Linked DNA regions of Homo sapiens: all the other regions are reported to be linked to region 1. The links are microRNA targets in miRTarBase. Many come from high-throughput screens and were not tested one by one. Region 1 holds a microRNA gene; each other region holds the end of a gene's coding sequence. Distances are from middle to middle.
What was found. Region 1 holds the annotated microRNA hsa-miR-6799-5p (GGGGAGGUGUGCAGGGCUGG, at 2,178-2,197, shown strand). A microRNA usually pairs through its seed, bases 2 to 8, with sites in the 3' UTR of a target mRNA and lowers its output. Matches are read on the target gene's strand: a 7mer-m8 pairs with bases 2 to 8, a 7mer-A1 pairs with bases 2 to 7 and ends in A, and an 8mer does both.

Region 1 (7,110 bases):
AAAGTGTTGGGATTACAGGTGTAAGCCACCATGCCTGGCCCACCATCTTATTTCTTTCTCCCCAAAGCCGACAAGGCTCCTCATTTTCCTGAAGGGGAAACAGCCCATCAGAGAGGGTCAGTGGCTTACCCCCATCTGTGCCCCACAGTCACAACCTCATGCAGGCGTGTCTGACCCCAGAAGGTGCTCCCCTGGGATCCTCTTCTAGAACAACATCATGCTCCATGCTCTTTGCTGTGCTAGGAGCTGGGTTATGGTTGGGGCCTGGAGTCAGCCCTCTGAGATGGGCTGCCCGCTGGCTGCCAGGTTCTGTGCCAGGCAAGTGCTGACCCTGGTTTCCTGTGACTGCTGTGATGAATTACCACCAGCACAGCGGTGTCAAACACCGGTTCTGGATGTCGGAAGTCCAACATCCATCTCACGGGGCTAAAATCAAGGCGTGGGCAGGGCTCGTCCCTTCCGGGGGCCCTAGAGGAGAGGCCGCGTCCTTGCCTTCTCCAGCTCCTAGAGGCCACCTGCTTTCCTTGGCTCGTGGCCCCTTCCCCCATCCCCAAAGGCAGCAGTGTGGCATCTTCTCTCCTGCCTGACCTCTGTTCCATCCTCACATCATCTCTGACTCTGAACTGTATCTTTCCCTTATAAGGACCCTGTGATGACATTGGGTCCACCTGGATCACCCAGGATCCTCTCTCCATCTCATGATCCTTAACTTTATCATATCTGCAAAGTACCCCCACCCTTTTTTTTGTTTGGAGACAGGGTCTTGCTCTGCCACCCAGGCTGCAGCCTTCACCTCCCAGGCTAAAGCGATCCTCCCACCTCAGCCTGCCAAGTAGGTGGGTCTACAGGCATGCGCCACCACGCTTGGCTAATTCTCATATTTCTAGTAGAGATGGGGGTCTCACCATGTTGCCCAGGCTGGTCTCCAACTCTTGGGCTCAAGTGATTCTCCCACCTCAGCCTCCTAAAGTGCTGGGATTACAGGCGTGAGCCACCCTAACCCCCAGAACCTGTGAATATATTCCCTTGGATTCAAAAGAGCCTTGCAAAGTCTGTTCCCTCACAACAGGCAGAGGGACCCTTTAAAAACCTAAGCCAGATCAAAAATACACCCATTTTCTCAGTTTGTTGTGGAGAGAAGATAAACGTGTGAATCCACCCAGAGACCTGTGGGAGTGCTGGACAGGCCGAAGGGGTCCGGGGGCAGCTGTTCCTGCTGTCGTGTTAACATCACGCTGATTCTCTGCTCACCACCCACAGCGGCTTTCATCTCCCAATCGGTAAAAAGCCAAGTCCTCACTTCAGCCAACAAGGCCCTGCAGGGTCTGGCTCTCTGTTCCCTCCCTGTCCTATCTGCAGCCCTCCTGCCCCATGGCTCAGGCCGCAGCCTGCAGGCCTCCTTGCTGCTCCTCCTACACACGGGCTCCGCCTTCCTGATGGCCTTGGCACAGGCTGTTCCCTCTGCCTGGGATGTTCTGTTGCAGAGGATTTTCAGTCTTTCCTCCTTAAGTTACTCTGTTTTGTTTATTTTTAAATTTTTTTATTTATTTAGAGACAGCTCTAACTCTGTTGCCCAAGCTAGAGGGAGTGCAGTGGCACAGTCATGGTGCACTGCCGCCTCGACCTCCCAGTCTCGAGCAATCCTCCCACCTCACCCTCCCGAGTAGCTGGGATTACAAGCCTGCGCCACCACACCCAGCTAATTTTTGTATTTTTGAAGAGACTGGGTCTCACTGTCGCCCAGGCTGGTCTTGAATTCATGGCCTCAAGTGATCCTCCCACCTCGACCTCCCAAAGTGCTGGGATTATAGGCGTGAGCCACCATGCCCAGCCCTGACAGTATTTGATGTATGTGTTTTCGTGGTGCTGTCTGAAATGTAAGCCCTGTGAGGACAAGTGTTTGGACCACTTTATTCACCACTCTATCCATGGAGTGAACAGCAGTGCCTGGTACCCCATGGGCACCCAGTAGGTGCTTGGTGAATGAATGAAGGTGCAGAGCCAGGCTTGACATGTTCCTGAGCCCTGTGAGGTTACTGAGATGCAATCATTTTGCAGATGAAGACACTGAGTCCTGGTGGGCCGTGAGGTCAGCGCCAGACTGGATCCTGCGGCCGCCTGGCTGTCTGTCCCTCTCGCTGGCCTCGCACACCCTTCCTGGGAGGAACAGGAGAGGAGGGGAGGTGTGCAGGGCTGGGGTCACTGACTCTGCTTCCCCTGCCCTGCATGGTGTCCCCACAGGGACAGCATGGACAGTGTCAAGCAGAGTGCGGCCCTGTGCCTCCTTCGACTGTACAAGGCCTCGCCTGACCTGGTGCCCATGGGCGAGTGGACGGCGCGTGTGGTACACCTGCTCAATGACCAGCACATGGTGAGCCCCCAGCCCTCACACCCCCGGATACCCAGGGCTCCCACCTCAGCCCTGACCCCCCTGGATGCCCGGGGCTCCCACCTCAGCCCTCACACCCCCGGATACCCAGGGCTCCCACCTCAGCCCACGCACCCCCTGGATGCCCGGGGCTCCCACCTCAGCCCTCACGCCCCCGGATACCCAGGGCTCCCACCTCAGCCCTCACGCCCCCTGGATGCCCAGGGCTCCCACCTCAGCCCTCACGCCCCCGGATACCCAGGGCTCCCACCTCAGCCCTCACGCCCCCGGATACCCAGGGCTCCCACCTCAGCCCTCACGCCCCCTGGATGCCTGGGGCTCCCACCTCAGCCCTGATCCCCCTGGATTCCTGGAGCTTCCCCCTCGGCGCTGACGTTCACCAGACACCAGAAACCATGATCCAGTGTCCCCGGTACTCATTACCTGCCCAAGTGTCCAGAAACCCTCCCATCCCCATCTCTGACACTCCCCTGGCTGGCCAGGGATCCTGTCCAGTGACCCCCACACCCCTCACCAACCACCCAGTCCCTTAGAAAATCCCACTCTGTTTCTAATACCTGGAGATTCCCCCAACAGCGCCCATCACCTGCGCACCAGCGCAGAAACCTTGACTGTCCCACCCCCACAGTCCCAACCCTCTAGAGTCTCGCCCCTTCACTGCTCCTTACCCAGCTGCCTGGGGTCCTGCCAGGGACACCCCACACACCCAGGTCAGTGCTGGCCATGGCGCCCGAGGCCCCGTGGCCTCCTCACCCCACCCCTAAAGCACGCACAGTGACACATGTGCACACCCCTAAACCCCATCTTCCCGACTGCACACACATCCCGACCCTGTCCCGCTCCTGAGCCTCTGCTCTCAGGTACCACCTCCCCCAGGGGCCTGACTTGTCTCTCCTCTGCCCCTGCAGGGTGTGGTCACGGCCGCCGTCAGCCTCATCACCTGTCTCTGCAAGAAGAACCCAGATGACTTCAAGACGTGCGTCTCTCTGGCTGTGTCGCGCCTGAGCCGGGTGGGTGTGGCCTAGATATTGGCTGCTGGAGGTGGCCCTGGCATCCCTATGCCCTCTGACACCCCTCAGGCCCCCACTCTCCCTGAGAGGCAGCCCAGCCCAAGGTTTACAAACTCAGGCTCTGAGCTGGATTCATCCTGGCTCGGCCTCTTCCTGGCTGGGTGGCCCTGGACAAGTGGCTTCACCTCCCTGGCCTCAGCTGCCCCCTGTGTTCAGTGGGGATAATACCGGTGCCCACCTGGAGGCACAGAGCGCTGTGGATAGAGTGCTCAGAACAGGGCCTCGCGGGCCGAGCACCCCGGGAGCCAGCCGCCCTCATGACCTCCTCCCTCTCCCACTTCTCTCTCTGTCTCCCACTTTCCCTCTTCTGGCTTTGCCTCCCGCCTCTCTCTTTCCTGTGCAGCCTCTCACTCCTGCCTGGCGTCCCTCTCCCACCTTTGCTCCTGTCCTGCCCAGGAACATCCCCTGAGGCCTTGTGCATGCCAGGCTCCATGTCGGGTGACACCAGGGACACAGATGAGTCAGAACCAAGCTCTGCTCTTAAGGAGCTCCCTGTCCTTCTGGCAGGGAGGTGACTCAGTCACAGATTGTCAGAAAAGGGGTGACTCGTGCTATAATGGAGGTAGGATAGGTCACCCATAGGAGGCACTTAACACAGCCTGTGAGTCCACGAAGGCTTCCTGGGGGCGGCGATCCCAGAATTGAGACTTAGAATACACATGCGCATCTCCTGGGCAGTCAGGAAGAGGCCTGGATTCGCAGGCAAAGAGAAGAACACACCAGCTCGTGCATCCACTCATTGTTTCTTTTTTTTTTTTTTTTTTTTTTTTTTTGAGACGGAGTCTCGTTCTGTCCCCAGGCTGGAGTGCAGTGGCGCGATCTCGGCTCACTGCAAGCTCCCAGGTTCACGCCATTCTCCAGCCTTAGCCTCCCGAGTAGCTGGGACTACAGGCGCCTGCCACTATGCCCGGCTAATTTTTTGTATTTTTAGTAGAGACAGGGTTTCACCGTGTTAGCCAGGATGATCTCGATCTCCTGACCTCGTGATCCACCCGCCTCGGCCTCCTAAAGTGCTGGGATTACCGGCGTGAGCCACTGCGCCTGGCCCACTCATTGTTTCTTTCTCAGGTTTTTTTTTTTTTTGAGACAGGGTCTTGCTGTCGCCCAGGCTGGAGTGCAGTAGTGCAGCCATGGTTCACTGCAGCCTCTGGCTCCTAGGCTCAAGCGATCTCTCGCCTCAGCCTCCCGAGTAGCTGGGACTGCAGGTGCCTGGCTAATTTTTGTATTTTTTGTAGAGATCGGTCTTGCTTTGTCGCCCACACTGGTCTCAAACTCCTGGCTTCAAGTGATCCTCCCGCCTCAGCCTCCGAAAGTGCTGGGATTACAGGTGTGAGCCACTGCACTCAGCCTCAGTCATTGTTTCATTCATTCATCACACATCTGAGTACTGCAGTGTGCCAGGATGACAGTGAGGTAGGAACACAGACCAGCACGGAGGTGGGACAGAGCTTCCTGGAGAAGGGCTTTTCAAGGTTGAATAGGAGTTTGCAATGAGGAAAAAAAGTCACATGATCTTTCTTTTTTTTTGAGATGGAGTTTCGCTCTTATTGCCCAGGCTGGAGTGCAATGGCGTGATCTTGGCTCACTGCAACCTCTGCCTCCCGGGTTCAAGCAATTCTCCTGCCTCAGCCTCCCAAGTAGCATGGATCACAGGCATGTGCCACCACGCCCAGCTAATTTTTGTATTTTTAGTAGAGATGGGGTTTCACCATGTTGGTCAGGCTTGTCTTGAACTCCTGATCTCAGGTGATCCACCCACCTTGGCCTCCCAAAGTGCTGGGATTACAGGCGTGAGCCACTGCACCTGGCCATGATCTTTCAATCTTTCACTAATTCCCTGCCTCTTCCCCGAACCTCTTCCTATCTGACCTTGTATTAGGCCTAGGGACCCAAAAAAGGGTCAGACCCAATCCCTGCCCCTGAGTGGCTTCAAGCCTTGTAGGGGGACTACAGGAAACAGCCTCCAGGAGCCGGTGCGCTGTGTGCTCTGACGGAGGAAGCCTGGGGCATGGGAGGCTCAGAGCCGAGTGAGGAGGGGGCCCTGGGAAACTGTCACACAGAAGGGAACCAGCAGAGACCTTTCCTGCCCACCACACACCAGCATTACTTGGAAAGATCAACCAGCCGGGCTTAGTCCTAGTTTTGCCCCCATTCAGTGTGCCTGACGCTTCCTCGCTCCCTTCCCAGAGCCTCAGATTCCTGCTTCATAAAACCATTGCATTGGTCGGGCATGGTGGCTCATGCCTGTAACCCCAGGACATTGCGGGACTGAGGTGGGAGAATTGCTTGAGGCCATGAGTTCGAGACCAGCCTGGGCAACATAGTGAGACCCTGTCTCTACAAAAAAAACCCACTAACAAAACCATTAACACTGACAGCACTGCCCTTGGAAGGCACCATTTGCTCCACCCTGGCATGTGGACCCACGTGCCCCTCCCACCCCAGCCCCCAACTTATTTCTTGCTCTTCCCCGCCAGATCGTCTCCTCTGCCTCCACCGACCTCCAGGACTACACCTACTACTTCGTCCCAGCACCCTGGCTCTCGGTGAAGCTCCTGCGGCTGCTGCAGTGCTACCCGCCTCCAGGTAATGAACGCCGTGCACTCCCCAACCCGGGGTGGCCTGCTGCTGGCATCTGGGGGCCTCCTGCTCCACGGCGCACCAGGTGGGACTGGAGGGTCTGGGTCAGGATTTCTCTGAAGCTGGGGCGGTTCCTCTGTCCCCTTACGTGGCTGCACTCGGGGAGGCAAGCAGGCAGCCCGAGGCCCAGCGCCTACCCTGTGCAGCATCGTGGATCAGCCTCATAGCTGAGGTCCCTGCTACCCGGGCTCTCACTCCAGCCCTGTTGCGAGGGACTGTTAACTGTGCCTGTTTTATAGATGAGGAATCTGAGGCTTGGAGAGGGAGCTCCTGGCCCAGCGTCACTCACCCGGTCAGTGGGTGATTCCAGGCCGTGCTACCTGAATTACCATAGCCCTGTCAGGGGTTTTCACATCTGTTGGGAACCTTCCCCTACTGCTCACAGTCACAATAGCCAGTGTGTATGAAACTCCTGTAGTGAGCCAGGCACTGGGCAGGGGGCACCTGCACCTGCCGAACAGAGCTGGCAAGGAGGAACAGCCAGTGTGATATGCACACAGGGAAACTGAGGCTTGGAGGTGAGACATCACCATTCTAGGCAGTAAGTGGCAGTTGGCCCCCAGACTCTCTGCTCTAAACCCCTCCCTCTGCCACTGAGCTCCCCCGAGCTTCTGTCGCCTTGGCTGACTGACCTCATGGAGCAGTTTCTTCGGACCCTGTGCTGAGGGGCTTGGCACACAGTAGGTGCTAATGCACCAGTTCCCTCCATTCAGCCAGCATGTCCAGCACCTGCCAGGGGCCAGGGCTGATGTACACCACCAAATCTCTGGGTGTGCATGCCTGTCTGTGTGCATGCCTGCATGCGTGCATGCGTTCGCCTGTGTGTGTCGATACCTGCCCGTGTGCATGCATGTCTGCGTGCATCCCCTGTGTGTGGATGTGTCATTGTGTGTGCATCTGTATGTATGCGTGTCTGTGTCTATATGTGGCAGTGTTCATGGTATCTCTGTGTCCCTCTATGTGTGTACATGTGTATATATCAGTGTGTGCATCTACATGTGTACCTGTGCA
Region 2 (7,110 bases), not on the chromosome of region 1:
CCCAGGCTGGCCTGGCCCGGCCTGGGGTAAAGTCATGGGCAGTTGGACTGCAGAAGGGCCCTGGGGACCGTCTCCCACCCTAAGCCTTACAGAGACAGCCCTCGCTGGGACAGAGACTGAGGGCTGAGCGGGCTCCAGGAGAGGCAGCCGGAAGCCCCTCGGCTCCCAGCCACGCCAGAAGCACTCCAGGCCAAATCCGGTCCCTCCCCTCTGGGACGGGCAAAATACAACCTCCCCTCAACCCCCTCCAGCCTGTGAGCCGGGGAAGCCCAGTGGCGGCCTTCCCTGCAGCCTGGCCGCATTCTGGGTATGGGGCGACCAGGGCAGGCGCCCTGTTGGTCCCGGCCCTCCTCTCTGCTTCACTAAGTCTGCCCCCCTTCGTGCAGCAGCTGGTGGGTAGGTGGGCAGGGACCTTACCACCCTGGAGAAAGCTGGGCAGCGAATCAGCCAGGAGGAAGGGGGTAGGAAGGGCGCACCCAGGCCCAGAGAGTGAGTAAGCCCAGACGGGGGGAGCGCGCCTGCCGGAGGGGCTAGACCGAGGGCCGCCTTGCGAGACATCCCTCTTCCCGCCACCACCTGCATCCTGTCCAGGGCTGTTCTGACCTTGAGGAGGCAGGGATCCTGGACACCTGGGCTGCTTGAGCACAAGGTCCCTCTCACGTTCGCGGGAACTCGCGTGTCACACCCGCCCCCACCCTACCCCCGTGTGAAACTCCTGGGGGAACTGGCGCCAAGGGAATGCGTCGGGACAAGCAGGAGGCAGAGGCCAAGGTCGCCCCCGCTTGGACTGAATCCCGACAGAGTCCAAACCTGGCCCAGCCCAGCTCAGCGGAGCCCGGAGTGGGAGCTGGGGGTCACTGTTCCCGGCCACTTGTTCCCGGGGGAAGCGGGTGTAGGGGGTCCAGGAGAAAGGGCCCAGGCCCACGGGAGCGCGCGGGACGCACCCGGGGCGTACAGCCACGCCCTGCCCCGCCCCGCCCGGCGCCGTCCGAGGAACCGGGATGCGTCCGCGGATCCCCGAGCGCTCCCCCAAACACTGGCCTCATCCCGGGGCACCACAAGCCCCGCCCGGGTGGTCCCTGCCCCGCCCCCACAAGCCGCTTCGGGGTTCGGGCGTGACCGCCCCCGCTTTCGCGCAGCCCCACCCTTTGGCTTTAGCCGCTTGGGCAGCGCGGCCAGCCAGCCTCCGGGACGCGCATCCTCGGTCCGGGGCCGGGGCCGGGCGCACCCCGAGTTACGCCGCGGCTCTGCGGCGCGGGACTGGCCGCGAAGGGCGGCGGGATGCACCGAGCGGGCCGGGAGCGGGCACGCACTCACCGAAGTACACGGTCTTGTCGCACTTGGGGCATTTGGAGGCCATGGTCGGTGCGCCCGGTCGGCCCGCGCCCTCCGCCCGTTCTCCTCCGGGCCGCCGCCGCCCGCGCCCAGCCCCGCCTGCCCGGCTGTCCGCGCGCCCATTGGCTCCGCGGCCGGGGCGGGGCCTCGATAACCCGTCCCCCGGGCTGGGGGCCGCCTGGGGGCGCCGCGGGGGCGGGGCGCACCTGCCGGGGGTGGCGGGTGCGGGGCAGCCGGGCCAGGCCTGGCGCCCCCGGGCCCCTCGCGCCGGAGGTGGCGTCTACAGGGGCCCGCCCGGGCGACCGCGGCGCCGCCCGCGCCCCGGCTGTTTCCATGGCGACGTCGGGGCCGCCTGGCCGGGCCGTCCCCGGGGCGGCGGGCAGGGTGCGGGGAGCCTGGCCCTCGGCTCTCGGGGAGCCCTAGTGACTTGGGCCTAGGGGTCCAACACTCCCGGCCCTGGGCGCCCAGGCTGCGCTCCGCCGCGGGAAGGGGTCGCAGGCTCCGGGAGAACCCCACCCCCACCCCGCCGCGCGCGGCGCCTGTCCCGCTTCCCTTTGTTGCTCGGTTTCCATAGCAACAGCCGCGCCGCGGGAGCGGAGTCAGATTCCCGGCGGGCACGGCCCCCAGCCCTGTCCGGGTCTCCATGTCCCGCTCCGCCCCCGCCCGCGCCCCGCCCCAACACTGTCTGTGGTGCTGAAGGCTCCTTGGGTGGAGGGCAGGGCTCAGGAAGGAAGGCGCCGCCACCTCCAGAAACAGCTCGAGAAGCTGCTGGTAGGGGGTGTGGGGAGGTCTGCGTCTGCCTCCCAGGCAGGGAAGGGGCGGCGGGCACCAGCGCCGAGGGATCCGCGCTTAAGGCGTCCACCCCAAGCACTTCCACCCAGGGGGCGGCCGGGGAGGCGGTGAGGAGTTAGGAAGGGAAGGAGGGGAAGGAGTGGGCGTGCCCTCTGTGCCCCGGGCTGGGGCTGACACTCCAGTCCCTTCTCCCGCACCGCCCAGGACCAGCTGCGTGCCTGGGGGCCCAGGGCCTGACCTCGAGGGGTCAGGCGGGAGATTGAGGGGTCATGCCAGTCACCGCACCCCCACACCCCCACTCTGGCCTCCTCCCAACCAGGGCGTGCCTGACCACGCCTCACCACAGTGCCTCCGCCCTAGAGCCCCGTAGAGCCTGGCCCCAGGTGGGGAACCTCCGCACCCACGGGCTTCCTGGTGCTCTGTCCCCATGGGCCCTTCTCTGAGCCTTCTGGCCCCAGCTGAGCGTCGGCCTGGGAGACAGGCAGATCCCAGAAGCCCAGTGATCAGGCCCTATGGGGGCAGCTGACTCTGGACACCCTTCCCCCTGTGTCTTGGAGGCTGTGGGCTGGACACGGAGACCTACCTGTTCCCTCTGCCTGGTGCACCAGGCATGTTTGTGAGCCAACCAGAGGCCCTCGGTGCTCCTGGCTTTCATGGTGGTCCTGGCTGGGCTCTCTGTGGCAGCACCCTCCTCCCTTGCACACACACCCTGCAGCCACTGCCATTTCCATGGTGACAGCAGGCCAGAAACATGCCCCCCGCCCCCCCGCCCGACTGACCAGCCTGACCAGCTCCCCCTCTGCACTTGGGACCTGTGCCAGCCAAGGCAGAAGATGGTGAGGAGGCATCAGTCAGTACCTTTTCTGGGCAGCCCTTCCTCCCTGGCAGGCCCAGGGGTCCCTAGGGGTCCCTCACAGCAGGGCCTTGCCCAGGCTGGATTCATGGGCCCACTGCCAAACCCTCTCCAGCTCCCTGCCCTGTTCTGCCCAGCTTGGGAGCCTGGGGCTAAGCCATTACCCTCCCTGACTTTGCTACCTGTGGGGCTTGCTACCTGTGGGGCTTGCTCTGGAGGACAGGGCTGGCTGAACACAGGGCTCTTCTGGAGGGAGACCACCTGCCCCAAGGTCCCCAGCCCTGCCAGAAGAGTGGATGGGGGTAGAGGCAGGCCCCTCCCAGGGTGGCAGCAAAGGAATGGCATTCGGCACTGGCCAGGTGCCCTGGAGACACACGGAGGGTGGGGTGGGACAAGGAGTGTGCCAGCTGCTGCACTGCCCTCACCCCAGCCGCAGTCCCTGGGCAGCGGCCAGAAGCTCCCTAATGCGACGGGGCTATTCTGGGCCTGGCAGGCAGGGGTCAGGATCAATGGGTGCAGAGCAGTGGCCTTGGTCTCCACCTCTGAGGCTGCGGTGGGTCACAGGCAGGGGCAGTGACACAGTGGGACGGGCCCGAGTGGAGAGGGGGGCACAGGACACGGCGGGTGTGAAGGGAGCTGGCAGGGCTGATGGCTGGGCATGGGGCTGGGTCACACCCCTGGGCTGCAGTGGTCTGGTCCCTTCCGCCATCCTGTGACACTGGCAGATAGCAGGCCCCTGCTACTCAGCTCCACTGCAGGGAAGCCAGGCTGGGCTGAGTGGTGGACAGAGGACCCTAGCAGGGTGGAGCGGAGCTGGCAGGACAGGTCTCCAGGCATGACAGCATGATGGCCTTGCCACCCTGAGATGCCCCTGGCCCTGGGGAGCCGCGGCCCCTGTGGGGTTGCTGGTGCAGAAAGCAGGCTGCTGTCTCATCAGCAGGGAAGGGCCTAACGAGGACATAGCAAAGCTGGGAGACCCCTTCATGGCCTGGGCACCAAGGCCAATGCTCCCCCCAGCCGGTACCCACTCACTTCTAAGCCCAGGTTTAGACCCACAAGCAGCCCAGGCCCCACCCAGCACCGGTGGCCAGAGCTTGGCCCTGTGAGGGCACTGCAGCCTGGGTGTCTGGCCGGGGAGGGTGTCTGGGGTGGGAAAGGGCCCCACATCTCCTCAGGGCCTCCCTGCCCTTGGGATAGAGCCCAGGACCTAGGACACCTCACAGCCCACATGTTGACTCCAGAAAAGGACAGGCCCTGGGGGGTGGAAGAGCTGCTGAGGCCAGAACCCTGCAGCCAGCACTGGGAGGCAAGCCCGAGGCCTGGGGAAGGGAGACAAGGGAGCTGGGGTCTTCACTGAGCTCCAGACCCCCAGGGTTGGAAAAGGCCTCAGAGGGAGCTGTGTCCTTCATGAGGTCAGGGGCCTGATTTCCCAGCCGTCTGATGACGCACTACAGGCAAGTCCTCAGGCTGTGGGGTCACTCGGATGCTGGCTGCAGATTAGAGTTGGCTGGTGGGGGCTGGGGTTGGGTGGGGGGGCGCCACAGCCCAGGGAGGGTGGGTGGGACGTGCACTGCAGCCGAGTCCCTGACACCTAGTCCTGTCACTGCTGGGCCCCAGCACAGGCTCCCACGGAGGCCAGGACGCCCCCTTATCTTTGTCTCCTGGGAGACAGCAGAAGTGGTTTCTATTTTAATTCCGTGGCTGAGATTTCCACATGACAGGGCGCCTGGGTGGGCTGGGGGAGCAAAGGCACAGCTCTGGGGAGAGACAGAGGAGCTACTCTCCCTGAGCGAGGCCTGGGCGGACCCCTCCTGGCCGGCTGAGGTAGCACGGCCAGGGGGGTGGTCTGGAGCCAGGCTATCCACCGGACCCCTCCTTCTGGTGGCCCGGCCTGTACCTGTCCCCCGGCCTGCAAGTCCTGTCCCCGGCCGGAGGATGGGCCAAGCAGGATTTCTGAGAATGTGCTTGCAGAAATCTAAGCAGATTCTCACTGTGGAGACTGCACACCTGCTTGGGGGCCAGAGCTCTGGGCAGAAACCCTCAGGCGGCTGGGGCCAGGCTCTACATGGCCAGGAGGTTGGGCCTCTGGCTGGAGCACTCCAAGGCCTCGCTGGCCCAGCTGCACTGGCTGCCCTGGTGGGAAGCCACAGGGTCTTCGGCAGGGCCAGCTCTGCCTGCCGGGAGGCAGTCCCCGGCCCACCGCTGCCGCAGACACAGACGCACAGACGGTTTCAGCACAGCTCTGCTGGGGAAGGGGGTTGGGCCCTGCAACCGCTTGCTGCCCCCTGGGGAGGGCAGAGGGCACCGCGCCAGGCCCCAGCAGGGGAAGGTCTGTGGGCAGGTGGGAGAGCAACAGAGCCCAGAGGCTGGGGTGGCTGTCCTGGCTGAGGTGGCCTCCAGGGGCCTCCAGCTCCACGGCAGAGCCACAGCCTAGGGCCGCCCGATGGGGGTGGGGGGCCCAGGGCCTGAGTCAGGGAGAGGGACTGGGAACAAAAGACACAGGGAAGGACCGGTTGGTTTTTTTCCTTTTTATAAGATTTTTTTTCTTTGTTTTTGTTTAATATGAAAATTACTTGAAAAGACAAGGGCCAACCCCGCCAGGCAGCTCGGCCGGCCGCGGCCGCACGATCCTAACATTCCAGGTGTAAGTTACAGAGCTCAAGTTCATCTACAAAAAAAGTAATAAAAATAAAATTTAAAATGGCACCTTCAACAGAACACAACAAAACCTTAGGGCCCGGCCTCCGGGCAAAAGGCCCCGCAGCACAGGGGCACGGGGTGGCCCCTCATCTCCGCTCCAGCCAAAAAGTAAACACAAAGCTAAAAACGACAACTCCTCGGCATTCTCGGAATAAGTTAGCCGCGCTTCTTCCTCTCCTCCCCCAGTGTCCGCCAAGGAGCGCGTTTCTCTGCAGGTGAGGGCGGGAGGTGGGGCACTACCAAACTGAGGGGCGGGCGGCGGGCTGGCTGGGAAGGGGCCGTGTGGGCGGGCGAGGGGCGGGGGGCGGCCGCAGGTGGGGGCGGCCCCTAGTCCTCGATGACGATGGGCTCGTCGTTGACGGGCGCAGGTGGCGGTGGCCGCGGCGGCAGGGCCTGGCTCTGGCGCAGGGCGATGGGCTTGTAGGGCCGGCGGGCAGCACGCTTGGTTTCCGAGGATGAGAGCAGCTTGCGGATCTTCCTGTGGGCAGAGGTGGTGGTGAGGGCCGGGACGCTGTGCGGAGCCCTCCCGCCTGCCCTGGGAAGGCCCCACCTGGTCTCCTCTGTGGCCATGTAGAACACGTCATCCGGGGCGTCGATCCAGTTCATCCGCCGCCGCTTGACTGGGGGCAGGGAGCCCCCCCGGATCAGGCGCACTTTGGTGGGGTAGGACTTCCCGTTGAGCAGGAGGTTCCGGCTTGGTCCCTGCAGAGGGGGTGCACTTCCTGGGCAGCCAGCCAAGGGCCAGCTCCACCTCAACCTGCAGGGCTCCCGCTGGGAGGTGCTGTGCCTGGCCAACCCCCCACCACCCCAGTGAGTTACACGGACCCCCAGCCTGGCCCAGGGCAGCCCTGAGGGCTGGTCGGCCGCACACCGCTGGGCCTGGCACAGGGGCCATGGCCCCCACATGCTGCAGCCCCTCTGGTCTTGCCAGGCCTCCTGGAAGCTTCCACGTGGCACCTGGCAGGGCTGGCCAGGCCTCTTCCCAACACCCCAGAGAGCTCATGGGTGAGCGCACCGTACCCCATCATGGGTTGTTCCTCTTACCATGTGCCTGGCCTGTCCGTGGTTTGCCAGACCTGATGAGAAATGGAGGAGAGAAATGAGGCCCCGAGAGAGCGCGTCCTGCACTCCCACCGCCCACCACGGCCTCAGCCACCTTGGGACAATGGGCCGGGGCCATCTGCCAACCAAGCCACAGCCCACACCCAGGATGGGCCTGGGGGACGTGGGGCCTCGCATCCCCGGGTCCTGGGCCGCCTGGTGGCCCCACAGCTCTCTGGCCAGCAAGAGACACATTGGCTTGGGCTCCAGGCAGGAGGCCAGGAGCCTTGGACCCGACAGTCACCTCCCTGCACAGGGGCCGGGGCTGTCCACCCACTTGCCTGCCGTGCCGAGACAAGCAAAGCCTCGCAAGGCTGTCAGTCCAGCAG
Region 3 (7,110 bases), 2.5 Mb from region 1:
CATTTTGGGAAGACGAAAACATTTTAAAGATGAATGGTGGTGATGGTTGCACAACACTGTAAATGTACTTAGTGCCACGAAACTGTGCACTTTAAAGCAGTTAAAATGGGCCAGGCACAGTGGCTCATGCCTGTAATCCCAGCACTTTGGGAGGCCGAGGCAGTGGATCACCTGAGGTCAGGAGTTTGAGACCAGCCTGGCCAATATGGTGAAGCCTCGTCTCTACTAAAAATACAAAAATTAACCGGGCATGGTGGCACATACCTGTAATCCCAGCTACTTAGGAGGCTGAGGCAGGAGAATCACTTGAACCTGGGAGGTGGAGGTTGCAGTGAGCAGAGATCGCCCCACTGCACTCCAGCCTGGGTGGCAGAGCAAGACTCTGTCTCAAAAAAAAAAAAAAAGATGGTAAGATGATTAAAATGGTAACCTTTATGCTATGTGTATTTTTATCAGTATACACACACAACACACACACTTTTTTTTTTTTGAGACAAGGTCTCACTCTGTCACCCAGACTGGAGTGCAGTGATACAATCACAGCTCACTGCAGCCTCAACTCCTTAACTCAAGCAATCCTCCTGCCTCAGCCTCCAGAATAGCTGGGACTACAGGCACAAGCCATCACGCCTGGCTGATTTTTTATTTAGTGTACAGATGGGGTCTCGCTATGTTGCCCAGGCTAGTCTTGAACTCCTGAGCTCAAACATTTCTCCAGCCTCAGCCTCCCAAAATGCTGGGATTGCAGGTATGAGCCACCATGCCTTGCTTTTACTTTTTTCATTTTAAAAAAAAAAGTTTATTTTTATTTTGTAGAGACGGGGTCTCACTATGTTGCCCAGGTTGGGCTTGAACGCCTGGGCCCAAGTGATATTCCTGCCTTGGCCTCCCAGGGTGCTGGGAGGTGATCGCAGGTGTGAGCCTCTGCACCCAGCCCACACACGGATTTTTGACCACTTCTCCCCTCCTCCCCAGCCAACACTCTAGCACAGCCACCATGGTCTCTCACCTGAACCAGGGCGGTGGTGTCCTCATTGGGCTCCTGGCTTCCACCATCGCCCCCTGCAGTCCATTCTCCACATCGCAGTCAGAAGGTCTTGAGATCTGAATCAGCGCACACCCTCCTCACCTCAGAAGCCTCCCATGGCTCCCACCTCATCCAAAGTGCACATTGTGGCCGGGCACAGTGGCTCACGCCTGCAATCCCCGCACTCTGGGAGGCTGAGGCGGGTGGATCACTTGAGGTTAGGAGTTTGAGACCAGCTTTAGCAACATGGCGAAACCCTGTCTCTACTAAAAATACAAAAATTACCTGGGTGTGGTGGCACGTGCCTGAAATCCCAACTACTCAGGAGGCTGAGACTCGAGAGAATCACTTGAACCAGGGAGATGAAGGTTGCAGTGAGCCGAGATCGCGCCACTGCACTCCAGCCTAGGTGACAGAGTAAGACTGTCTCAAAAAAAAAAAAAAAATTGCATTCTGTGGTCCATGAGGCCCTGATCAAGCTGCCTGTCCTCTCTTGCCTCACCTCCTCCTCTTGCTCTCCCCACTCCCTCTTGCTTCAGCCACTCTGGCCTCTTCGCTATTCCTTCAACAAGCCAGGCACACCACCCCGAAGGTTTTTGCACTTACTGTTCCCTCAGCCCCCAGAGACCTGCCAGCCTCACCCTCACCAGTCTTGGGCTTCTACCCAGTAACCACACCCTCCATCATCCCCATCACCCTTACCCTGCTTTCACTCAAAGTTATGAATCACATTTCTTGTCTTTGTCCCCGCTAATATTTAGTTCCATTAAGAACAGGAATTTTTTTTTTTTTTCTTTGAGACAGAGTCTCACTCTGTCACCCAGGCTGGAATGTAGTGGTGCAACCTTGGCTCACTGCAACTTCCCCATCCTGGATTCAAGCAATTCTCCTGCCTCAGCCTCCCAAGTAGATGTGATTACAGGCACCCACCACCACGCCCAACTAATTTTTGTATTTTTAGTAGAGACGGGGTTTCACCATGTTGGCCAGGCTGGTCTGGAACTCCTGACTTCAGGTGATCCGCCCTCCTAGGTCTCTCAAAGTGCTGGGATTACAGGCATGAGCCACCGCACCCGGCTATTAACTGAATTTCTTGTCTGTGTTCCCACTAATATTCAGTTCCATTGAGAGCAGGAATTTTTTTTTTTTTGAGACAGGGTCTTGCTCTCTTGCCCAGGCTGGAGTGCGGTGGTACAGTCACAGCTCACTGCAACCTTGACCTCCAAGCAATCCTCTCACCTCAGCCTCCCGAGTAGCTGGGACTACAAGGCATGCACCACCATGCCCGGCTAATTTTTGTATTTTTTGTAGAGACAGGATCTCACTATGTTGTTCAGGATGGTCGCAAACTCATGACCTCAAGTGATCCTCCTGCTTTGGCCTCCCAAAGTGCTGGGGTTACAGGCATGAGCCATCACGCCCAGCCGAGAGCAGGAATTTTTGCCTGTTTTATTCACTCCTGTGTCTCCAGTGTTTAAAATAAGCTTTGGCACACAGCAGATGCTCAAAAAATAATTGTGGGTTTTGGGTGGGTTGTTTTTTTAGTTTTTTAGAGACAGGATCTTGCTGTTTCCCAGGCTGGAGTGAAGTAGTGCAATCATAGCTCACTGCAGCCTCGACCTCCTGGACTCAAGCAATCCTCTCCTCTCAGCCTCCTGAGTAGTTGGGACTACAGGCATGCACCACCACACCCAGCTAATTTTTTAATTTTTTGTCCAGATGAAGTCTTGCTGTGTTACACAGACTGGTCTCTAACTTCTGGCCTCAAGTGATCCTCTGGCTTTGGCCTCCCAAAGTGCTGAGATTACAAGCAAGAACCACTGTGCCCAGCCTCAAAAAATATTTGTTAAAAGGAAGATTAAACAATGGAGACCAAAAGAGAAACCAAGAGAAATAGGAGGAGAAAAGGAAGAGATAAAGGGAAGGAGACAGGGGACACTGAGACTAGGGACCTGGAAGCTGTGGGGTGCGGGGGCAGGGGAAGGGGAGCAAGGTGGAAGAAAGTGTTGGGGTAAGATAAGTGTGGAGGAGAGAAGAAAGAGAATCAGCTGGGGCTGGGCACAGTGTCTCACGCCTGTAATCCCAGCACTTTGGGAGGCCGAGGCGGGAAGCTCACTTGAGGTCAGGAGTTCAAGACTAGCCTGGCCACTCTGGTGAAACCCTCTCTCTATTAAAAATACAAAAATTATACGGGCATGGTGGTGGGCGCCTGTAATCCCACCGCCACTGCACTCCAGCCTGGGTAATAGAGCAAGACTCCATCTAAAAAAAAAAAAAAAAAAAAAAGAACGAGCTGGGGACAGAGAGCAATAGGGAGGACACAGAATGAGCAGAATGAGTCAGAGACATACAGAGTGGGAGAGAGAAACAATACCAAGAGACACCAGAGAGATAAACAGGACACAGAAAGACTGAGACGCAGAGAGACAAACACAGAAAGAGAAAAGAGCCAGGACACACAGCAACAAGGAAACGAAAGAGTAGGAAAAAATGGGGCTGGGAGAAGAGAGATGAAAACCAAAGAGAGGGGGGCCAGTGGGAACCGAAATGGAGAGGCCCCTCCCTCAAACTCACCATTTGCTGGTGGCCAGGGCTTTGGACTGACTTGCTATCCCCAGAGGATCCCAGCTGGGGCTTTTAAACCCTGAGGGACAGAGGTGGTGGAGAGAGAGAACATGTGACATCGTTCTCAGGGCTTGAGATCACCAGTTTATTTATTCCTCAGAGCAAGTCTATGAAGAAGTACCATTAGCATCTTCATTCTACAGAACCACAGAGGCAGGGCCAGGCACAGTGGCTCATGCCTATAATTCCAGGGCTTTGGGAAGCCAAGGTAGGAAAATCACTTAAGCCCAGGAGTTCAAGACCAGCCTGGCTAACATAGTGTGAAACCCCATTTCTATTAAACAAACAAACAAAAAATGCTTAAAAATTTTAAATAAGTTATAAGGCTGGGTGCAGTGGCTCACGCCTGTAATCCCAGCACTTTGGGAGGCCAAAGTGGGCAAATCACCTTAGGTCAGGAATTTGAGACCAGCCTGACCAACATGATGAAACCTCGTCTCTACTAAAAATACAAAAATTAGCCAGGCGTGGTGGCGGGCGCCTGTAATCCCAGCTACTCAGGAGGCTGAAGCAGGAGAATGGCATGAACCCAGGAGGCGGAGCTTGCAGTGAGCCGACATTGCACCACTGCACTCCAGCCTGAGCGACAGAGCAAGACTCCGTCTCAAAAGAAAAAAAAAAAAAAGAAACAGAGGCCGGGTGTGGTGGCTCATGCCTGTAATCCCAGAATTTTGGGAGGCCCAAGTGGGCAAATCACGAGGTCAGGAGTTCGAGACCAGCCTGGCCAACATGGTGAAACCGCGTCTCTACTAAAAAATACAAAAATTAGCCAGGCGTGGTGGCAGGGGCCTTAATCCCAGCTACTTGAGAGGCAGAGACAGGAGAATTGTTTGAACCTGGGAGGTGGAGGTTGCAGTGAGCAGAGATCGAGCCATTGCACTCAAGCGTGGGGGACAAGAGTGAGACTTCTCTCAAAATAAAAATAATAAAAAATAAAAATACAAAAAAAAAATTAGCTGGGTGTGGTGGTGGGCACCTGTAATCCCAGCTACTCAGGAGGTTGAGGCAGGAGACTCACCTGAACCAGAAGGCGGAGGTTGCAGTGAGCAAGATCATGCCACTGCACTCCAGCCTGGGCAACAGTGCAAGACTCCATCTCAAAAAAAAAAAAAAAGAAACACAGAGGTCAAGTGACCTGCCCAAAGTCACACAGTTTGTAATGAGAGGAGCTGGAATTTGAACCCGAGTAGTCTCGCCCCAGTCAGTGCCCCTAACTATCACCTATGCTGACTACAAAGAAGTGCTGGCTTCCTAGATTCCCCTTCACAACCACCCTCTGGGGAGTGGTGGTGGGGTAAAGGGGAGGTGAGCAGAGCAGCTGACCTTCCTAACCACCTCCACAGATCTCCAGGAGCCACAGCGTGGGAGAAGATGCTCAGCCTCACTCTCCTGGGAAGGCCTCCAGCTCAAGCGGGGAGGCTGGACAGGAACCAGCTTCCTGCATGTCAGATCCCAGGCCCTGTCCAGAGCCAGGCCTCAGTCTTCCAGGATGGAACATGGCCTCCCCACCTCGGACTCCTTGCCCAGAAGCTAGACCTCAGTTTCCCGGCCTTGGTTTCCTAGCAGCGCCCCAGGCCAGAGGCTGCACCAGTCTTCCAAGGCAGCACAGCGCTTTGGTCATTGGCTCTGAGATTTCCAGACAGGCTGAGAAGCAACACCACCGCCGCCGCCATCCACTCTCATCTCTCTGACCCCAGGAAGTGGGCCAGCATCGTTCCCTCTCGGCAGCCAACTGAGATCCCTGGGTGATTCAGCCTCTGTCCCTGACATGATAATTACACCAACAGCAATTCCCAGAACCCCAGCTATTGTCCTATATCACCCCACCCCTCCTCTTGTCTCCTGTGCTGTAACACGAGGGCAGACACTCTGCTTCTCCCCAGAGACATTTGTCCTTTGCTCCAAGCACACAAAAAACTGGGAAGCCCTTCCCACTGTCTGACCTTCAAAGGCCCTGCTGCTGCTAAGCTGCTTCTCCCTACTCCAAGAAAAGAAGAGCTCCTTAAGGAAGGGGAACAGCCCACCCGGGACAAAACAGACAAAGGCCACACCCCAGGAAGGTCTTTCCCACACAAACTTGGGAGGGGAGGCATCTCTGCAGACAACAGGACAGACACAGCACGAGGCAGCCGAGGCTGTCGTTTATTGCAGATGGACACGGATTCAGGGAGGTGAAGAGGCAGATGGGCTGTGGGCTCTGTGCTCAGCATCCCACAGCAGGAGGGGCAGGAGACAGAGCTCAGGATGGGATCTTCCTGATGGTGGAGGACCCGGCCTGACCACAGAGTAGCTGCAAGAGGCAAGGCCCCGAGCTGACACCCCCTGGGCCCCCATTCCGCGGGATGACGGCTCCAGAGACGCTGAGCGATGTCATTAGGAAGAAGGCCGGACCAATCCAGAGACGGTGCATCCTCGGCGTGGAGCACAGAGCTCTCGAGGGCTGGCGATCCGGGTTGGGGTGGAAGGGAGAGTTACCCGGGTCTTCGCCCCTCCGCGGCCTCTGGCGTCTCTCTGGGTGTCTGGCGGCTCGGACGGCGGTCAGGGTCGCTGTAGCGGCGGCGGCGGCTCAGCGGCAGCTGGAGCTGGGGTCGCGGCCCGCCGGGGACTCCCAGGAGGCAGGAGAGGGAGGCAGCGGCGGGCGCCGGGACAGGCGGCACGCCCGGGCGGGCAGCACACGGAGGGGACGGCGCGCTGGGCTGTGGGCCGGCGGGTGCCGCGGGAGACCGCGTGGGTACCCAGATGAGACCGTAGTACACGGCGAGCAGCACGGCAGCTAGCGAGACGCAGAGGAAGTAGGCGCATACCGGAGCCAAGCGCAGCCAGCGCCCCCGCGGGCCCTCGCTCAGCCCCGCGCCTCCGGGGCTCTCGGCGCCGCCGCCCACGCAGCTGGTCCCCCGCATCCCCGCAGCCCACTCGGCTCCGCGCCGCAGACCGCACAGGCCCCGCCCCCACCAGGCCCCGCCCCCACCCCGCAGACCGCCCCGCTCTCTAAACCGCCCGCCTCCGGCCCCGCCCCCGCCAGCATGGTCACGCCCCCACGCGAGCTGCCGCCTCCGCATCCTAGGCCCACCCCCTCCAGCCTCCGCCCCACCACCGACAGGCGGAGGTGCTACCCCGCCCCCCTCGCTCCAGCCCCGCCCCCGCGCTTAGCCCCACCACCCCAATCACCGCCTCCTCCCGCCACAACACGGTTCTCTTCCCAGACTCGGACTTCATCCAGCCCAGGCATCTAGCCCGCCTCGGAGCCCGCCCCCTCGTCCCGCTCAAGCCCTGCCTGGAGCCCTAACCCGCCCTGTGCCGCAGCCAGTCTCACTTCTCTACCTGTCGGACTGCTCTACTCCAGTGCTCGAGCCCTGCCCGCTACGGCCTCTGGCTCCCACACTCTAGTTCCGGAATCCCCGCTCTCCTCCCGCGCGGGTTCCCGCGCGACACCCCGACCACGCCCCCGCTGACGGCCC
Region 4 (7,110 bases), not on the chromosome of region 1:
TGAGATTTCTCCCATCACACCCAAAACCCCAACAACCAGCCTTGCCTGGAAAGTGAGTTGGGGCCTGCTCAGAGCACCCCCTTGCAGCTCTGCCCTCCCGCCCCATGCTTCAGGCAGCTTGCTCTCTCCTCATAGGTAAGAGGAAGCCGGTGCTGTCTCTATTTGACTATGAGCAGCTGATGGCCCAGGAGCACAGCCCTCCCAAGCCCTCCTCGGCTGGGGAGATGTCACCACAGCGTTTCTTCTTCAACCCGTCTGCTGTCAGCCAGAGGACCACCTCGCCTGGGGGCCGGCCCTCCGCCCGGAGCCCCCTCAGCCCCACAGAGACCTTCAGCTGGCCCGACGTCCGTGAGCTCTGCTCCAAGTATGCCTCCCGCGATGAGGCACGCCGAGCAGGGGGCGGCCGGCCCCGCGGCCCACCCGTCAACAGGAGCCACTCGGTGCCGGAGAACATGGTAGAGCCACCTCTGTCGGGCAGGGTGGGCCGCTGCCGCAGCCTGAGCACCAAGAGGGGCCGGGGAGGCGGAGAGGCTGCCCAATCCCCTGGGCCTCTGCCCCAGAGCAAGCCGGATGGAGGCGAGACCCTGTATGTCACTGCAGACCTCACCCTGGAGGACAACCGGCGGGTGATTGTCATGGAGAAGGGACCCCTTCCCAGCCCCACTGCAGGGCTGGAGGAGAGCAGTGGCCAGGGACCAAGCTCACCGGTGGCCCTGCTGGGGCAGGTTCAGGACTTCCAGCAGTCTGCAGAGTGCCAGCCGAAGGAAGAGGGTTCCAGGGACCCGGCAGACCCGAGCCAGCAGGGCAGAGTGAGAAACCTTAGAGAGAAGTTCCAGGCCTTGAACTCTGTCGGTTGATGCTGACTCCTGGGGGAGGGAGGAGTCATGTTGGAGGTTGGGGAAGAACCTGGGCATCCTTCCCCTCAAGCCTGGGCTCATGGAGCCCCTGCCCAGGGCCCTCAGGTGGGCGGAAAGTCCATCCCCTCCGCCCTTCAGGAAGGATGCTCCCGTGTGCAGGGGTCTCCTGCCTGTGCCATCCACTGGGGCTCGAGACAATTTCCCACTCACCTGTGAGGCCGGTGTGGCTGCTTCCCTTGTAAATAGTTGTTCTCTGGTAAGAAGCCAAATATTTAAGCTCACTTCTTCCCAGAGAGAGGAAGCTCTGCTCAGGCCTCCAGCGTTGGCTGGCCATGGCCACAGCCAGATGGAGGAGCCCATCCCCAGGAGACTCAGGCAGTGGCCTGGAGAGGCTTTGTTCTGTAACGGTGCCTTTTCTTAGGGTCCAGGCAGGAATGAAGCCAATAATTTATTGCTTTCCATTCTGTGGTATGATGTGCGTGTGCGTGAGTGTGTGGCCCCTGTTTATTCCCCTCCTGTCAAGAATGAAGTGGATTCAGTTCAGGTACTTTTGAGGGTTGTTGTGCTGACCCTGTGGTTGTCGCTGATGTACACACATTTCATTATTTGCCAATGGTGCAATAACCACTGCTGACCAACCCACTATGTGTGAACTCCTTCCTAGGCTTGGCTGGGGTAGGGAAGGTTATTCATGGGCCAGGGATGTCTTAGGGAGATGGAGACATGGAGGTTGTTCCTTCCACACTCAATTGTCACTTGGGCTTATGAAACATAAGGCACCCGGGTACTGGTGGGGGAGGTGGGGCAGGAGGATGTGAGGGCGGGCTTTTTCTTTCTGCTGCCTAGACTCCCATGGGCTTCTCTGTCTAGCAGCAGCCTGCTGTCCTGTCTAGGGTAGGGGGTCCCGCATGCCAGCCTTTTGCTCTTTTCCCCAAGGGCCAGAGTTGGACCAAGAAAAAGGGAGGTGGTGAGGTGGATAGACTGTTTTTCTCATAAGCAGATGCTCCCAGTATCTGGTGCCTTTTGCGTTTCTCTCCGGTCCCCAGGAAACATCCTAGAAGACAAGGATTTTTTTTTTTTTTTTTTTTGAGACAGAGTCTTATTCTGTCACCCAGGCTGGAGTGCAATGGCGTGATCTTGGCTTACTGCAACCTCCGCCTCCCAGGTTCAAGCAATTCTCGTTGTCTCAGCCTCCCAGGTCGCTGGGACTACAGGCATGAGCCACCACACCCAGCTAATTTTTTGTATTTTTAGTAGAGACGGGGTTTCGCCGTGTTGACCAGGCTGGTCTCGAACTTCTGACCTCAGGTGATCCACCCACCTCGGCCTCCCAAAGTGCTGGGATTACAGGGGTGAGCCACTGCATGCGGCTGAAGGTAAGGATTCTAAACTCGGAGACTAGAAATGTCCTAAAGGTGTCTGCAACATTGGATGAGGAGTACAAGTGCATTTTTCTGGGATGATTCCTCCCTTTTTATCACATTCTCAGAAGTATCTTTGATTCAGAAGAGTTAGGAATGCCTCCCTATTTCAGTTGGGTTTTCTGCCCTTTCTCCACAGAGGTCCAGACTCATTTTGCTTAATTTTTTTTCTAGCTGGGGCCTGGGAGGTAGAGGCTTCAGGGCCTGGGTGGTAGAGCTGCCTGACAAGTGTTCAGCAGGGCTGCTGGGTCAGGGCCCTGTGGGCCTTCTGACCCAACCTGAAGATGGGTCTGCTAAGTCTAACAAGGTCAAGGGAAGATCAGAGGGACCCAGATTCTTTTTTATCCCCCACTTGAAACGGAGTCTTGCTCTGTCGCCCAGGCTGGAGCGCAGTGGTGCAATCTTGGCTCACTGCAACCTCCGCCTCCCTGACCCTCACACTGTCCAGTGCCCTTGTGGTTACTCAGCATCATATCTTGAGACTGGCCTGGCAGGAGCCAGTGACTGTGGAATGACCACAGAAGATTCAGGGCAGCTGCCAGACCAGGGGCTATCTCTGCCCTGCGCTGCTTCTGCTCAAGAGAGGTTGTCACTAGCCTCTGATCTTCCCTTGAAGAACCCGACTGGGGCTCTTCAGAGGGTGGGGCCCAGGAAGTTGTAGTTAACCCCTTCCCCAGGCAGTCCTTACACGGCCATCTAGGTATGCCTGGGAACCTTGCACCAGGTCGGTGGTTCTCACTGGCTGCCCATTGGAATTATCTGGGGAGCCTTCTGGAAACGCAGTGCTTACATTCCATCTCCCTAGACCAACAGAAACTGCCCTCTGGAGGTGAATCCCAGGCTTAGAGATTCTGATGATTCTGCGGTCCAGTGAGTGCTGAGATCTGTCCTGAGCTCTGTGGGGAGGGGCCTGGACTGATCACTGCTTGGAAATGATTTTGCCCTACAGTAGGCCTTCAAGTTGATCAAATGCATGAATGAGCAAGCTTTTCTTGGAGTTTGTGATGAAGCCCAGGAACCGGGTGCTTGCAGTCGTCCCATAAGGCTCCCAGGGACAAGCTAGAGAATCTGGCTGTCCCTCTGTCTCCATGGTGCCAGCCCTCTTAGGCTCAGTTCAAAGGGAGAGGAGGCTAGTTAAATAAGAAACTGAGAGAAACATGGAGCATTATTGATTTATTAGAAAAACTAGTAAATGGGTTTCCTCTGGTTGGTGGAAGCACGGTTGAGCAGGTGGAGGACAGGACCCAGCTGGCCCCAGGGCCAGCCCCAGATTGCATGGTCTGTGCCCAACAGGGTTGCATTCCTCTGCAGCCGCCGCCTCCTCATTTCCTCCCTGAGCTTGTTTGTCCAAGCCACCAAGCCATGTGGTCCCGCTGGCTTCATCCTCCTCTGGATTCCTGCCCCCCTCCCATGAAGGGAGGAAGAGGATTCAGGGTCAGCCTAGGGGACCCTGGCTCCCTCCGATAGGCAGGAAGGAGGAGGGATGCGGAGGAGAGGCTGAGCCTTCCACGGGCCTCCTGTTAGGGGTGTTGGTGGAGGCCAGGTTGGGGAGGGAAGCCTAAGGACCCTCCACACCTCCCACAGCCAGAGTCAGTTGAGGCTGGGACAAAGGGGAAGGAGAGAGGGAAGGAGGACCGCCTGACCTTGCCCAGAAGGAGCTTCCTCTAAACTGCCCTGGGAAGGAAGCCTGGTATGCTGGTGTGGACTGGAGCTGTGTCAACCTCGTTTGGGAATACTGTCAAAAGACTGTAGAGTAGAATAAGGAGAGAAAAAAAAAAAAAGACCTTGCTAGGGCACTGGGAGAGCTTAGCCCTGGTGTGGCACACACAGGGTCTCCCAAAGCTGGATGCCTGCATTTTCAGTCTAGTTGGTCGAATGTCTTGGAGCCTGGGTGACAGGAGGGATGTGTGGGGAGCTGGCAACAGAATGGTCACATGCAGCTGGCTGCCCTGGACCAGGCCAGGGGACCTGGGGTGGTGAGATGCTAGCTCTTCCACTAGAGCCCTTCCTTTCTCGGGTCTGTGGAGTTGCTTGCTGGAAATGCCTCACTTCAGGTGCTGATTTGGCACACGTGGAAGGGGGAGGGTGGGCCCTTGTCCCTAGGCTCCCTAAAGACTGGCCCAGGGAAACAGTTGAGGGAGATGTTTGCCACCATCTGCCCTTCAGCAAGGAACCTGCTCTCTGCCCCAGAGGAGGACATGCCTGCAAGTGCACCAAAGGCCTACTTTATTGCTAGGTGAGTGCAGTCACCTCACTGCCTTGGTTTCCCCAGATACAGAAAGAGGCTGGTGAGTGATACACACTAGGTTCCCTGTATAGGGTCATATGTACCAAAGCCAAATGAAGACCTTGCTCACCAGGGCGGGAACCTGGGGATGTCAGGCTCCATCGGATGACGTCTTCCTTCCTGTGGCTCCTGCCTGCTGCAGTTGGTGTCACCCTGACATATAGTGTCAGGGCCACAGGGTGGAACTGATTTCTGCCGGCACTGGTCAGCACTCAGGGTTCCTCAGGGGGCCTCATTCTGGATGCCTGCCCCTGTGGCTTCTACCTGAACCTCACCCACTTCATCTCCATGGAACTAAGGTCCTTCTCACGGGGAAGGTGATAGAAACTTGACTGCAGGCCCTGGGGACTTTCATGGTTTCCTTGGGGGAAAATGCCTGCTGCCCTCCGCCCTCCCCCCCACCCCCGACCCGCTTGACTGCTCTCTTGGACCTAACCCTAGTTTGATACTGGGCCAGAACTGTGTTGCTTTCGGAGTAGAGTGGTGGGGAAAATATGGAATGAGCTTTCTCTTCCTCCAGAAGTATGACCTGAGCAGCAAGGGGAAGGCCATTCCTGGGGACGTTGGTTGCAGAGCTTCTGGTGCTCAGGGCTGGAGGGTGGTAGATATTTGACCTCTGTACTCATGTGACCCCCTCCCCGCCAAGACCTGGGGCCAGGACGTGGAGAAGCTGATCAAGGGGTACCACACCTTCATGGCTCTGGCCCTGACATTTGTCCCAGTTGTGCAGGAGTAGCTGTCACATGGGTGGTGATACCAAGACATGGCTGCGTCTGCCACCCCGAGAAAACAGATGATCAACTTTACTGTCTGCCCAGCCATTACCCTCCAAAGTCCCAGCTGCAGACAGGATGCAATTGAGCATTTGGCTTTGGGATGCTTTACTGCAGGTGCGGGGGGTATCCATCTTATATCTGGGGGCCCACACTGTCCCGTAGGGGGCCTATGTCTGTTGGATATTGCTGGTTTGGCTGCCACTGGGAGTGGGGCGAGGGTCCCAGCATTGAGAGGGAGAGCCTTAGGCAGTGTTGTGACGCACCTGTCACTCCTTCAGATCAGAGCCCTGTGCCCTAGCCACGGTTTTCAATGAGGAATGGTCTGACCTTGCTGCCCTTCCTGGGACCGCCTGTGGTGGCACAAAGGGTGCTAGAGGCACTCAGCCAGGCCCTGCCAACCGTGGGAGGGTACCCTTTGATCTGGGGGGAGAAGCAGAGAGGAGGGATGTGGTGGCCCCTGAAGTGAGAGTCCCAGTTCTGCGGAAGCCCAGTGGGAAGGAGGCTGGCAGCTCCCAAGGCCCTGCACCCAGTCTGGTCCCCTCAGCCCCCCAGAGCCCCTGGCCCAGAGCTAGGGCTTTGTGGGCCACCTGAAGGCTCCTTCCTCATGCCCCTAGGGGGCTGGCCATGCATTTCCAGTGTCTTCTTCCTTTCCCCTTTCCCTGGCTGCCACCAGGTGGGAGGTGACCCGAAGCAAGACTTGCTTTAGGAACGGGCAGCGTTTGAAGAACCCCATCAGCCTTCTCCAGCTCTTTTTTTTTTTTTTTTTTGGTTGGGGGTAAGGGGCCTGTGCCCCCTCGGCTCAGGAGGAGGGTGGGAGAGGAGGGCGTGTGCCTCAGAGAACCGTTTCCTGCCCCCAGGCCTGGAGGCCCCAAAGGCGCCAGAGGAGCTGGGAGCCCCTGTCCCTGGAGCGGAGCCAGCGCGGGCGAGGGCATGGAGGGGGCGTCGGCCCAGGACACGCGGGCGAAGGCAGCTTTTGCAGTGCAGCGTGGGGCCCGGGGGCCCGGCCCGCGACTCGACTCATCTCGATTCGACCGGCGGGCGGCGGCGAGAGGAGGCCAAGGCCTGGGCTGCCCGGTCTCTGCGCGTCCCGACTCCGCCGCGCCCGCCAGCCCCACCTGCTACTTCTTTTTGGGGAAGAAGCTGAATCTCTTCTCCTTGTCTTTCTTGCCGAGGCTGGCGTCGGGGCCGGAGAGGGAAGGCAGGGGCAGGCTCTGCGCCTTGACGCGGATGCTCTGGGACTCGTTGATGGCGGTGCTCACGCCCTGCAGCCAGGACAGCATCTCCTCCTGCGGGGCGGAGGGTCACGGTGGAGTCTGGAGGCCCACAGCCCCCCACCTCCCGGGCCAGGCAACAATGGTGGGGGCTCTTGGGACTGCCCCTTCTGAGGGGGCCTCCAGGGCAAGCGGCCTGGGGTCCTCCACCTACCCCCTTCTTAGCCAGGTCTGGGCTAGGCTGCCCGCGCTTACCTCATCCTTGCCATGGAAGAGCCACTCGCTGCCATTACTCAGCCTAGGAGGACAAAGGGTTTCCTGTCATGGAGACACCTCTGGAGGGGGCGCTGGGCAGAGGGCTGGCTCTGATCCCACAATACCCTGAGCCGAACATCCAGACCCCTCTCAGGCAGCCCAGCACTTTCTGAGAGGTCAAAGTCTGGACCATCAGCCTCTTTGATTTGAAAAACCCCTGAGGAGCAGCTCAGGCCTGGCACTGGTCCCCTACAGAGGGCCTCTGCCCTGCCACTAATGCCAAATCAAGCCATCAACCCGAGC

Region 2: the mRNA of MTA1 is a reported target of hsa-miR-6799-5p. Seed matches in the 3' UTR shown: 7mer-m8 at 5,904-5,910.
Region 3: the mRNA of INAFM1 is a reported target of hsa-miR-6799-5p. Seed matches in the 3' UTR shown: 7mer-m8 at 5,819-5,825.
Region 4: miRTarBase lists PLEKHG3 as a target of hsa-miR-6799-5p. Seed matches in the 3' UTR shown: 7mer-A1 at 2,015-2,021, 7mer-A1 at 2,048-2,054, 7mer-A1 at 2,184-2,190, 7mer-A1 at 3,683-3,689, 8mer at 3,852-3,859 and 7mer-m8 at 6,675-6,681.

What each region holds. Positions count from the first base shown.
Region 1 is chr19:49,789,694-49,796,803 of GRCh38, forward strand. MIR6799 (microRNA 6799) reads left to right here and starts at 2,173; the gene lies at 2,173-2,241. It overlaps AP2A1 (adaptor related protein complex 2 subunit alpha 1), which reads left to right. Exons shown (of 23, transcript NM_130787.3): 5 at 2,242-2,371; 6 at 3,298-3,399; 7 at 5,937-6,045.
Region 2 is chr14:105,469,113-105,476,222 of GRCh38, reverse strand. It overlaps MTA1 (metastasis associated 1), which reads right to left. Exons shown (of 21, transcript NM_004689.4): 19 at 6,725-6,756; 20 at 6,231-6,382; 21 at 5,494-6,158. The coding sequence ends at 6,008. It overlaps CRIP2 (cysteine rich protein 2), which reads right to left and starts at 1,402. Exons shown (of 8, transcript NM_001312.4): 1 at 1,318-1,402. The coding sequence starts at 1,360. RefSeq lists silencers at 1,380-1,489, 1,670-1,739, 2,010-2,159, 2,250-2,339, 2,350-2,399 and enhancers at 2,428-2,960, 4,516-5,379.
Region 3 is chr19:47,274,362-47,281,471 of GRCh38, reverse strand. It overlaps INAFM1 (InaF motif containing 1), which reads right to left and starts at 6,587. Exons shown (of 1, transcript NM_178511.6): 1 at 5,749-6,587. The coding sequence starts at 6,552. The coding sequence ends at 6,124. It also overlaps a transcript of CCDC9 not described here. RefSeq lists a cis regulatory region at 2,939-3,076 and silencers at 6,216-6,665, 7,026-7,110.
Region 4 is chr14:64,742,847-64,749,956 of GRCh38, forward strand. It overlaps PLEKHG3 (pleckstrin homology and RhoGEF domain containing G3), which reads left to right. Exons shown (of 17, transcript NM_001308147.2): 17 at 136-7,110. The coding sequence ends at 857. SPTB (spectrin beta, erythrocytic) reads right to left here. Exons shown (of 36, transcript NM_001355436.2): 35 at 6,808-6,850; 36 at 3,437-6,627. The coding sequence ends at 6,460. Among named protein-coding and RNA genes, the nearest start is that of MIR7855, 39 kb to the right of the region's middle.